Linked DNA regions of Homo sapiens: region 2 is linked to region 1. A link means that fine-mapping ties the variant in region 1 to the expression of a gene that starts in the linked region. Tissue or cell type: whole blood. Region 1 holds a variant in brackets; the other region holds the start of a gene. All regions are shown on one strand. Distances are from middle to middle.

Region 1 (5,224 bases):
GGAAGTAATTAGGTCACGAGAGGGAAGCCCTTATGATGGGCTTAGTACCCTTCTAAGAAGAGACGGGAGAGAGCTTGCTTCTTCTATCTACCCTGTCAATATACACTACCACACCCTTCTGCAAACCAGGAAGTGGACCTTCTTCACCAGGACCGGAATTGGCCGGCCCCTTGACCTTGGACTTCCCAGCATACAGAACTCTGAGAAATAAACATTTGTTGTCTAAGCCATCTAGTCTATGGTAATTTGTTATAGCAGCCCCAGCTGAGTAGGACACCCACCTATCTGAAATTGCAACTCACACCCCTGCCCTATCATCTCAGCTCTGCTGATTCCCCTTACTGTGCTCTTGCTTGTTTTTAAACACTTATCTGTTTCTAATATACTAGGGTGTATTTATTTACTTATTAAGATTATTCATGTCTACCTCCCCCAACAAGATTTACCCAGCAAGAATCTTTTTGTTGTTCTCTAGCTCCTGAAAGAGTGTCAGGCATAAAATAGCCGTTGAATAAAATGTGTTGAATAAATGAATGCTGCCATTAACATTTTTATGTATTCCATCACACTAGTGATTTTATTTTTATGGGATAGAATGCCAAGAGTAAAACTATTGAGTCAAAGGACATGTATATTTAAATTTTAGTGGAAGTTCCAAGATTGCTTTCCAAATATTTTTTTAGCAAGTCATGGCCGGGCTCAGTGGCTTACTCATGTGATCCCAGCACTTTGGGAGGCTGAGGCAGGTAGATCATTTAAGCCCAGAAGTTCAAGACCAGCCTGAGCAACATAGGGAGACCCCATCTCTACAAAAAATACAAAAATTAGCCGGGCATGGTGGTACATGCCTGTAGTCCTAGCTACTCAAGAAGCTGAGAGGGGAGGATTGATTGAGCCTGGTAGGTGGAGGTTGCAGAGAGCTGGGAATGTGCCACTGTACCCCAGCCTGGGTGGCAGAATGAGGCTCTGCCAAAAAAAAAGAAAAAAAACAAAGTTCCTTTTTAAAAAATCATCAGTGTAAAACAGTGTCCTTTTCCCCCCACATCGCTGCCAGCAATGAATATTATAGCTCTCTTCAATTTTTTTCAGTCTGATAGATATAAAAGGATATCTTGTCCTTGACAAGGTATTACGTGTCCTTGACTTTGAGCATTTTCTCATATGTTTTGCTGGCAATTTGGAGGTGTTTATCTGTGAACTGTTTATTTGTATCCTTTTCCTATTTTTCTCTTGAGTTGTCCTTTTCTTTAAAAAGTGTAGGTTTTTTTGTTTATTTGAGATACTTATCTTTTACCTGATGAGCATTATAAATATATTTTTCCCAATATATCATTTGTTTATGATATATTATCTTTTATCATAAAAAGCTCATCTTCCCTCTTAGAGTTTTTAGATTTAAATTTTGATTGGGAAAGCCTTCCCTATCTCTGTTATACATGTAGTCATTCTGATTTTTTGTGTGTGAGTTTTTATTTCAATTTGTCATTATTTAGTCAACAAGTATTGACATTTAGGTATTTAATCTTCTAAAATTGGATGTTAGTGTGTGTATGAAGGTATACGTTACAGAGTTTAATTTTCTTCCATATTAATAGCCAATTGTGCAGGTACTAGTTATTCAAAAATCCATGATTTCCCCCATCGAACTGAACTATTAATTTTATGATATATTCTCACATAAACTAGGATCTATTTCTAGATTATCTGTTCAGTTCCACTAGTATGTTTATTGATTATCATACAAATATTTTTAATTTGATTTCAGAGCCACACCTTTTCCCCATTATTTTATATTTCCTAGTTGTCTTCCTTGACTATACTGAAGCAATTATTTTTCCACATCAAATTTATGACCGTTTTACCTAACTCTGGGAAACTTTTTGAGGTTAAACTTCCCTAATACTAGCAGCATGTATAGAGACATAGCAGCATGTATAGAGTGTAATGCAAAGATTACAGGTTAAATTCTTTTTATTTTTTTCAGAGTAATATTTTCTCGTTACAAAATAGAGATAATAATTCTTGCCCTGCTTATCTACCTAAGAGGGTTCATACCGTGTGGAGATTCTCCAATACATAATATGATAAATAATACAAACTCCATTTGTCCAGCAGAACTGTTTTGTTGTTGTTGTTTTTGTTTTGTTTTTTGAGACAGAGTCTCACTCTGTTGCCCAGGCTAGAGTACAGTGGCATGATCTTGGCTCTCTGCAGCCTCCGTCTCTCAGGTTCAAGCAGTTCTCCTGCCTCAGCCGCCCAAGTAGCTGGGATTATGGGCATGCGCCACCACGCCTGGCTAATTTTTGTATTTTTAGTAGAGACAGGTTTTCACCATATTGGCCAGGCTGGTCTCGAACTCCTGACCTTAAGTGATACGCCTGCCTCGGTCTCCTAAAATGCTGAGATTATAGGCCCGAGCCACAGTGCCCCGCCAGGACTGTTATTTTGCGTGTGTGTGAGAAAAGTAGTTAGGGCAAGGGAATAGACCTTTTCCATTATTTTATTAGGTGAGATACTTTGTTGCAAGTAATAGGAATGTAAGCATCAAATGCAATCATGTAGGAAGACACGTGTAAATTTATAATTCCTGGTATATAGTGCCTGTATGTACTGTAGTGGTATTGTGGGGGCCATAGGCTCTTGGCCTCCTAAAGGCTCGCTGAAAATCACTGACATAAAGCGGATTGATTAATAGGAGAAAAGGTATACAAATTTATTTAACATGTTGATATAGTTTGGATGTGTGTCGTTACCCAAATCTCATTGAAATGTAATCCCCAGTGTTGGAGGTGAGGCCTGGTGGGAAGTGATTGGATCATGGGGGCAGTTTTCTCATGAGTGGTTTAGTACTATCCCTCTTGGTACTGTCCTCGCAATAGAGAGTGTGTTCTCATGAGATCTGATCGTTTAAAAGTGTGTGGCACCTCCTC[A/G]CTTGCTTTCTTGCTGCTGCTCTGGCCATGTGAAGTGCCTGCTGCTCCCTTTGCCTTCCACGGTGATTCTAAGTTTCCTGAGCAGAAGTTGAGCAGATACCAACATCCTGCTTCCTGTACAGTCTGCACAACCATGAGCCAATTAAACCTCTTTTTTTTATAAATTACCATGTCTCCAGTATTTATAGCAATGCAAGAATAGAGTAAGACATGTATATACACAGGAGGCTTCAAAATGAAAAGGCCAACTTCCCAGTGAGTAACAGAAACTTATATGCCATACTGAGGCCACAGTAAAGAATGCAGACTCAGAGCATGGCCAGAAACAGGTCAGTCAGGTTTAGTGGCAAGACATGTGAAGAGAGACAGAAAGGAAGAAGCTTGGCTAGCAAAGATGGCCTTGTTACATAGATGAAACCTTCCCCAAAGAAAATAGATGGTAAATGTTTATTTTAAGACTTTAAAAGGTGTCAGACTCTCAATCTTTCCTGGAGCGGGGAAGGTATAGAAAGGGGAGGGGGCGTGGTTACAGTAATGAAGGTTCTCTATAGATGCAAATTTTCCCCACTTAAGGCAGCTTTGCAAATCCACTTCTGTCAGAAGTGATAGGCCAAGTGATAGCCCTTTTAAAATACGTCACAGAAATAGGTTTTGGGATAAAATATTTTTTTTTATTTATTTTATTTATTTATTTATTTTGAGACAGCGTCTTGCTCTGTCGCCCAGGCTGGAGTGCAGTGGCGCAGTCTCGGCTCACTGCAACCTACGCCTCCCGGGTTCAAGTGATTCTCGTGCTTCAGCCTCCCTAGTAGCTGGGATTACAGGCATGCACCGTCATGCCCAGCTAATTTTTGTATTGTTGGTAGAGATGGGGTTTTACCATATTGGCCAGGCTTGTGTTGAACCCCTGACCTCAAGTGATCTGCCCAGCTTGCCCTCCCAAAGTGCTAGGATTACAGGCATGAGCCACCACGCCTGGCCTAGGATAAAATATTTTAATTTCCTTTTATTATATACCTGTGTTGGTATATAGAGCCAAGCCTTACTGCTGTGAGCATCATATGAGGCCCTGGTCATAGCTCCTGTCTGTGGCTACTGTGGAGTTTGCCACTTCCTGTTTCCATGATCTTAGATGAACCAAACTCTACAAGGGAAAATACTTTGTAAGTTACAAAACTGCCTGACAACCACTGATCAGAATTATTCTTGCTGTTTCCTGTGCCGCATTTCTCTCAAGCAGGAGAGAAGTCTGTAGTTCTCAATGGCTGTCACCCACGGCAAGGACAGCTTCTTTCTTTGTGGAGCAGAGACGTGTGACTCTGAGTCAGTGGCAGGCAATGTTATGCTGGTAATAAGAACTCTATAATGAAGCGGTCTGAGAATATGAGTGCATTGTCCTCCTTTCTTTTGTTTCTCTTTTTTTTTTTTTTTTTTTTTTTTGAGATGGAGTCTCACTCTGTCACTCAGGCTAGAGTGCAATAGTGCCCACTGCAACCTCCACCTCCTGGGTTCAAGTGATTCACCTCCCTCAGGCTTCCAAGTAGGTGGGATAACAGGCACCTGCCACCATGCCTGGCTAATTTTTGCATTTTTATAGAGTCAGGGTTTCACCATGTTGGCGAGGCTGGCCTCAAACCCCTGACCTCAGGTGATCCACCCATCTCAGCCTCCCAAAATGCTAGAATTACAGGCATGAGTCACCACGCCCAGCCTTGCCCTCCTTTCTTGATGAAGCCCCTGCTCATATCTATCTTTAGCTATAGTGTTCACAAAAAGATTATTAGATTATCGCAATCTCAAGTGTTATTTGTGCCTTGTTTAATAGACTTGAGCAAAAGTATTTCAAGGGCCTGTGCCAGGTGTTTTCTCTCTTTTTAATCCTTTTTCAGCTGGCAAGGATCATGCACATTTATTCTGGATTTGGCTGATTTTCCCGGGAATGTATGGTGAGATGTGAGTTTGCAACACCATTATTTTTTTTAAGGAACAATAAGGGCATATACACAGAAAGCACCCATCCACATATAATTTTGAATCCCAGGGTCCTTAGAGATATGCTAGTCAGCCCAACTCCCCTCATTTGCAGATTTGGGTGCCAGAAGTGAAAACGCCTTTGCAAAATTTTGACAGTAAGAGAAATCTGACATAGTTACTCCATCTTGATTCTAACCTCCAAGTTGTCCTTGGTCATTCCTGGGCATAAGCCAAGCTAGGTTTGGCAGGAATTAGGTTTATGGTTTAACTTTAAAGCAAGGATGATAATAGCCCTTCCCCAAACTAAACCACCTCTATAA
Region 2 (5,224 bases), 78 kb before region 1:
ATGACATTGTTGTGTCATTGAACCACAACAACCAAGTACCTTCCAAATTTTTATGTTAAGAAAATGATTGCTTAAGCCACCATTAGCTGAACTTTCCGTTATGTGAAGTCAAACGTATTTCTTTTTTTCTTTTTTTTTTTTGAGGCAGAGTCTCACTCTGTTGCCCAGGCTGGAGTACAGTGGCACAATCTCCACTCACTGCACCTCCGCCTCTCCAGTTCAAGCGATTCTCCATGCTTCAGCCTCCAGAGTAGCAGGGAGTACAGGCATGCACCACCACACCTGGCTAATTTTTGTATTTTTGTAGAGATGGGGTTTGGCCATGTTAGCCAGGCTGGCCTCGAATTCCTGGCCTCAGGTGATCCACCTGCCTTGGCCTCCCAAACTGCTGGGATTACAGGTGTGAGCCACAGCGCCCGGCCCCAAAGTATTTCAAATGGGTACACCTTGGTTCTCTCTTAAGCTACAAATCACTCAACATTTACTACTGGCTAAGAACTTTAAGATATTATCACTTTTAAGCCTCACAGCAACTCCAGAAACAAGTGTTGTTATTCCCATTTTACATATGCAGAAACTGAGGCCCATACAAGTTGGCTATCTTGTCCTTGGCCATACAGAATTTAGATTGTAAGCCAGGTTCCTTTGATTCTAATCTCAATGCTCGTCATTGCATTGCTATAGTACTGTTATTAACCTCTTGGATGTGTGCAAGTCTAGTTGCTCTGATTAAATTGTGTATCACGCAAGAAGAGCATCTTAGGCTTGTAGGAGTACACCTAGTGGTCTACATTTAGATCATTAGATATTTGAAGAATTAATGGGTTTGCTTGACAAAAAAAAAAATTACAGGATAAGCTTTTTTTGTGCTGTTCTGCAAAACCACACGATGCTTTCAATTCACTCCAAAAAAAAAAAAAAAATCCAAATCAATCCACTTTCACAGAAGACTTGATAAAAAAGTTTTTAATAATAATCAAGGGCTTTGATATGTGATAACATTTTTTTTTTCCTCCCTGGTGAAAAGGCAAATGAATAGCAGGGTTTTGGTGCAGATGCTTAAGGCAACTGCATGGACCTATCTTCAAGGATATGGGGTGCTGCTGTCTGTCGAGTTGAAAACACAAACGTATCCCTTCCCAGGGTTGTGTGATAGGGTGTATTTTGCGATTTTTCTTTCTTTTTGGCCAGCATTTACTTGTCAGGTGTTTCAAGGTGTCTAATATCCCCACTACTATGCTATTTGCCCAAAAGGCACAGCTGATGGGCCTCCTGCAATTCCTGTTCCATATTCTCTTCTCTTAGCATTTACTGAATTATTGAAAGCAGTACGGAGGCAGCCACGTTGAGTTTAGAGTCAGGCTCACTGGACCAAAGCTACTATGTTTTGCCTTTCTCTGTAAAATGAGAAAAGACCTATTTAAAACGTTCTTATGAGATTTAAATGAGCTGAAATGTAAACTAGTAACAGTTAAGGTAGACGACAAGAACTTATCAAGTATCTATGTGCTGCATAGTGAGATAAGTGCCTGGAAAGTAATGATGGCCCCTGTCATCAAGAAGCATACAGTCTACTAAATTACCAGTTTCAACTCTAACTCCTTAGTGGCCAGAAAACGGAGTAAGTTGGAAGACAGTAAAATCTGAAGTCTGGCACCAGGGATCAAGTGCCAGTTCCTCAACTTTACAGATGCAGTGGGTTGAATAGTCTCCAAAAGATATGTCTATGTCCTAACTCCCAGGACATGTGAAAGTGACCTTATTTGGGAAAAGGGCCTTTGCAGATGTGATTAAGGACCTCCAGATGAGATGATCTTGGATTATCCCCGTGGACTCTAAATTCAATGTTCAGTGTCCTAAAAACACACAGAGAAGTGGCACAGGCACAGGAGAAGGCCATTAGAAGACAGGCCGAGATTGGAGTCATGCAACAAGAGGCCACGGACCGCCTGGAACCGTTAGAAGCTGAAGAAGCAAAGCATTCTCCCCTAGAGCCTTCAAAAGGTGCAGGGCTCTGCCAACAGCTTGATTTTGGAATTCTTGCCTCTAGAACAGTTAAAGAATAAAATTCTGTTGCTTGACACGAGCAAGTTTGTGGTGTCAGTTTCTTCATCTGGAAAATGGGGCATATATCCTAACCACAATCTTATTTCCTGAAGTATAAAATGGAATAACAGCAGTTTCCAGGCACGAGCAGACACTAAAAATGGCAAACATTTATTGAGAGCGTTCCATGCTAAGCGCTTTGCACGTATCACTTAATTATTTCTATTTTATTGATCAGGAAGCCAAAGCTCATAAAAACTGTAATTTTCCCAGAGCCACACAGCTAGCAAGTGAAAAAAACGGGATTACAATTCAAATCGACTCACAAGATACCCCTTTTATCCTCCACGCTGGACTGCTGAGGAAGTATGCAAATTAACACACTTTAGAAACTTTAGCTACTTCAATATTTGTTCAGGCTACGGGATGCAGGCCTCTTATTAACCGCGCCAGCCAGGTCTGTCCTTCAGCAGCCTGTTCTGCCTCGCAAGAGCTCTCCCTCTCTTTCCAGCACGGAAGCCACAGGGTTAATGACGTCATTTCCCGTGGCCGTTGTCGCGTCCTCCGCCCGACGGATTCTTGCAAGGGCCAAAATCCTCGCGCCTCAAGAGGAGGCATAACAGCAGCGGACCAATAGAAATTCCGAATTTTTGTATTCTCTGGGAAGCTCCACCTCTTAGTCCCTGATCCGCCGCGGAAGATGAAAAAAAGCGGCCCGGGGGCGGAGCAAGGCAAGGAAGCGGAAGCGGAGAGGCGGTCGGGATCCGCTGCGCGAGCTGTCTCGGTCCCACGTGTGCGGTGAGTGTGGCAGGCTCAGCGGTCGCTCTTGGGAGGGGTTCGCACCCTGCCGGGCGCTGGAAGTCGGGAAGGTCTCTCGGGGCTGTTGTCCACTGGGCAGTCTCCTCTGGCCTCTTTCTGGGCTAGGAGTTTGGGACTGACTGGAGCCTGGCAAGAAGGGCGGGACTGGCCGGGCGCGGTGGCTCACGCCTGTAATCCCAGCACTTTGGGAGGCCGAGGCGGGCGGATCACAAGGTCAGGAGATCGAGACCATCCTGGCTAACACGGTGAAACCCCGTCTCTACTAAAACTACAAAAAATTAGCCGGGCATGGTGGCGGGCGCCTGTGGTCCCAGCTACTTGGGAGGCTGAGGCAGGAGAATGGCGTGAACCCGGGAGGCGGAGCTTGCAGTGAGCCAAGATCGTGCCACTACACTCCAGCCTGGGAGACAGAGCAAGACTCCGTCTCAAAAAAAAAAAAAAAAAAAAAAAGAAGGGCGGGACTCCGACCTCTCTCCCACCACGTTGCCCTGCGTGCCGGGTTAGAGTGGACTAGCTTCACTCCGGAATCCCAGCCCGTGCTCGGCCTGATCAGCCTGTCTGTGCTACTTCACAAACCCCAACTCCAGTGCTAGGCGGTTTGCCTGAATGTACGCAGATTCTAAGTGCTGGGAGGAAACGAACTGGATGCTGAGTTGGCAGATAGTGGAGTCTGAAGAAGTGATCTTTAAACGGAGATTTGGAAGCTCAGGGAGTACTTCAAGCAGAGGCGATAATGGGCTAAGTTCCTGAGATGGGAGCTAGGAAGGAGTATAGTTAGAGTACAAGATAAAGTTAGCCGGATAGAGTGGAACTAGGTTCTGTAGGGCCTTGAAGGTCATGATGGGGAATTTTTTTTTCTGTACAATAGGAAAACATTTCCGTTCCTATTACCATGTGTAGAAAACATTGAAGACTTGTAAGCAAGTGAGAATCATGAATAGGCCCTGGTTCTCTTTAGAAAATGTATTACATTTGGAAGCTCAAGAGATTGTATTGGTAATAGTTTGCATTAGGGTGGTGACGTAAGGGACATTTAAGAGAACTAACTTATGGTTCAGCGTGGCAGAGTAGAGAGGAAAATGTCAAGGGTAACTCAGATTTCTTACTTGAGCAGTAAAGTAGATGATGTGCCATTGGCTGAGATGGAGGACGATAGGGCAGGGAAAAATAGTATATTGTTGTTTGTGGGGCAAACAACAATAACATAAAGAACAACATAGAGAATTATGTTTTGGACATATTAAGGGTAAGGTTCCTGTTAGACACATAATTAGAGGTATCAGATAAGCAGTTATACACAAGTTTGGACCCCAAGGAGAAGTTCATAATGGAGACATGATTTGGGAGTACTCAGCATAAAAAGCCAGGAGATTGGATGAGACCACCTAGGGAGAAGTGTGGAGAGAGAAGGGAAGTTCCCTAGGGCAAAGATTTGAGGAATGCTAACATGTAGAGGTTGGTCTATAAGAAAATGTCATTTAAACTGAATTTGAAGGATGGGTAGAAATTGTGTTGGTAGAGAGAATGGCTTTAAACTTCACTATTCTGATAAGAATAGTGGCTCCTGTGTGGTGGTGATGAGTGGGGTGAATTAAGACCACATTTTGAATGGCTGTGAATGCCTGAGTTGGAACTTTTTCCTGAAGGCAGTGGGAAAGCTTTGAAGCTATTGGAGCATGGAAATGACATGAAATAGGTGTGCTACTGGAAGGTTAATCAGGCAGCGGAAAGTGGATCAAAGCAGATAGGATCTAAACAAAACTGAGCAAGAGGTAACAGGAGCCTGAATGGGGTAATAGAGGGAAAGGAAAAAGGGGGGCGAATTCCAAGAGACACTATTGAATGTGATGATTCATTACGAAGGTACAGGGTTCCCAAGCAAAGCAAATTGCATTTTGCCCAGTGCAAAAAGCAAGACTCAAAAAGTTACATATTGTATGATTCCATGTATAAGAATGCCATTCTGGAAAAGACAAAACAGGAGTGAAAACCTAATCATTGGCAGTCAGGAAAGAGGGAAGGAGTTGAATACAAAGGAGCTGTACCAGGGGACTTTTTAGAGTGACAGGACTTTTCTGTAAGATACTGTGGTAGTGGATGCATGAGTCTTAGCCATTTGTTGAAGCCCGTGGAATTATACACCAGAAAGAGTAAACTTGACTATATGCACATTTAATAAATCTGCCAGCATTTCTGGGGATGGAATGCAGGCTGTGACAAATCAGTTAAACTATATTATAAACATGTAACTTCACTAAAGAGGGTGAGGGGCCGAAGGGCTGATCTAAGAACCTTTTTTTTTTTTTTTTGGCCTGCAGCAGTAATTGCTGCAGGCAGAATACACTGACTTGAATGCTAA

What was found. PIP is the estimated chance that this variant, and not a neighbour inherited with it, causes the effect.
Region 2: PUM3 starts here. The variant in region 1 is fine-mapped to the expression of PUM3 in whole blood (TOPMed, PIP 0.98).

The regions. Positions count from the first base shown.
Region 1 is chr9:2,763,460-2,768,683 of GRCh38, reverse strand. No RefSeq gene overlaps it. Among named protein-coding and RNA genes, the nearest start is that of KCNV2, 49 kb to the right of the region's middle. The variant A/G (reference allele first, on the strand shown) is at 2,931.
Region 2 is chr9:2,841,665-2,846,888 of GRCh38, reverse strand. PUM3 (pumilio RNA binding family member 3) reads left to right here and starts at 2,794. Exons shown (of 18, transcript NM_014878.5): 1 at 2,794-2,844. RefSeq lists enhancers at 2,463-2,702, 2,526-2,820, 3,204-3,765.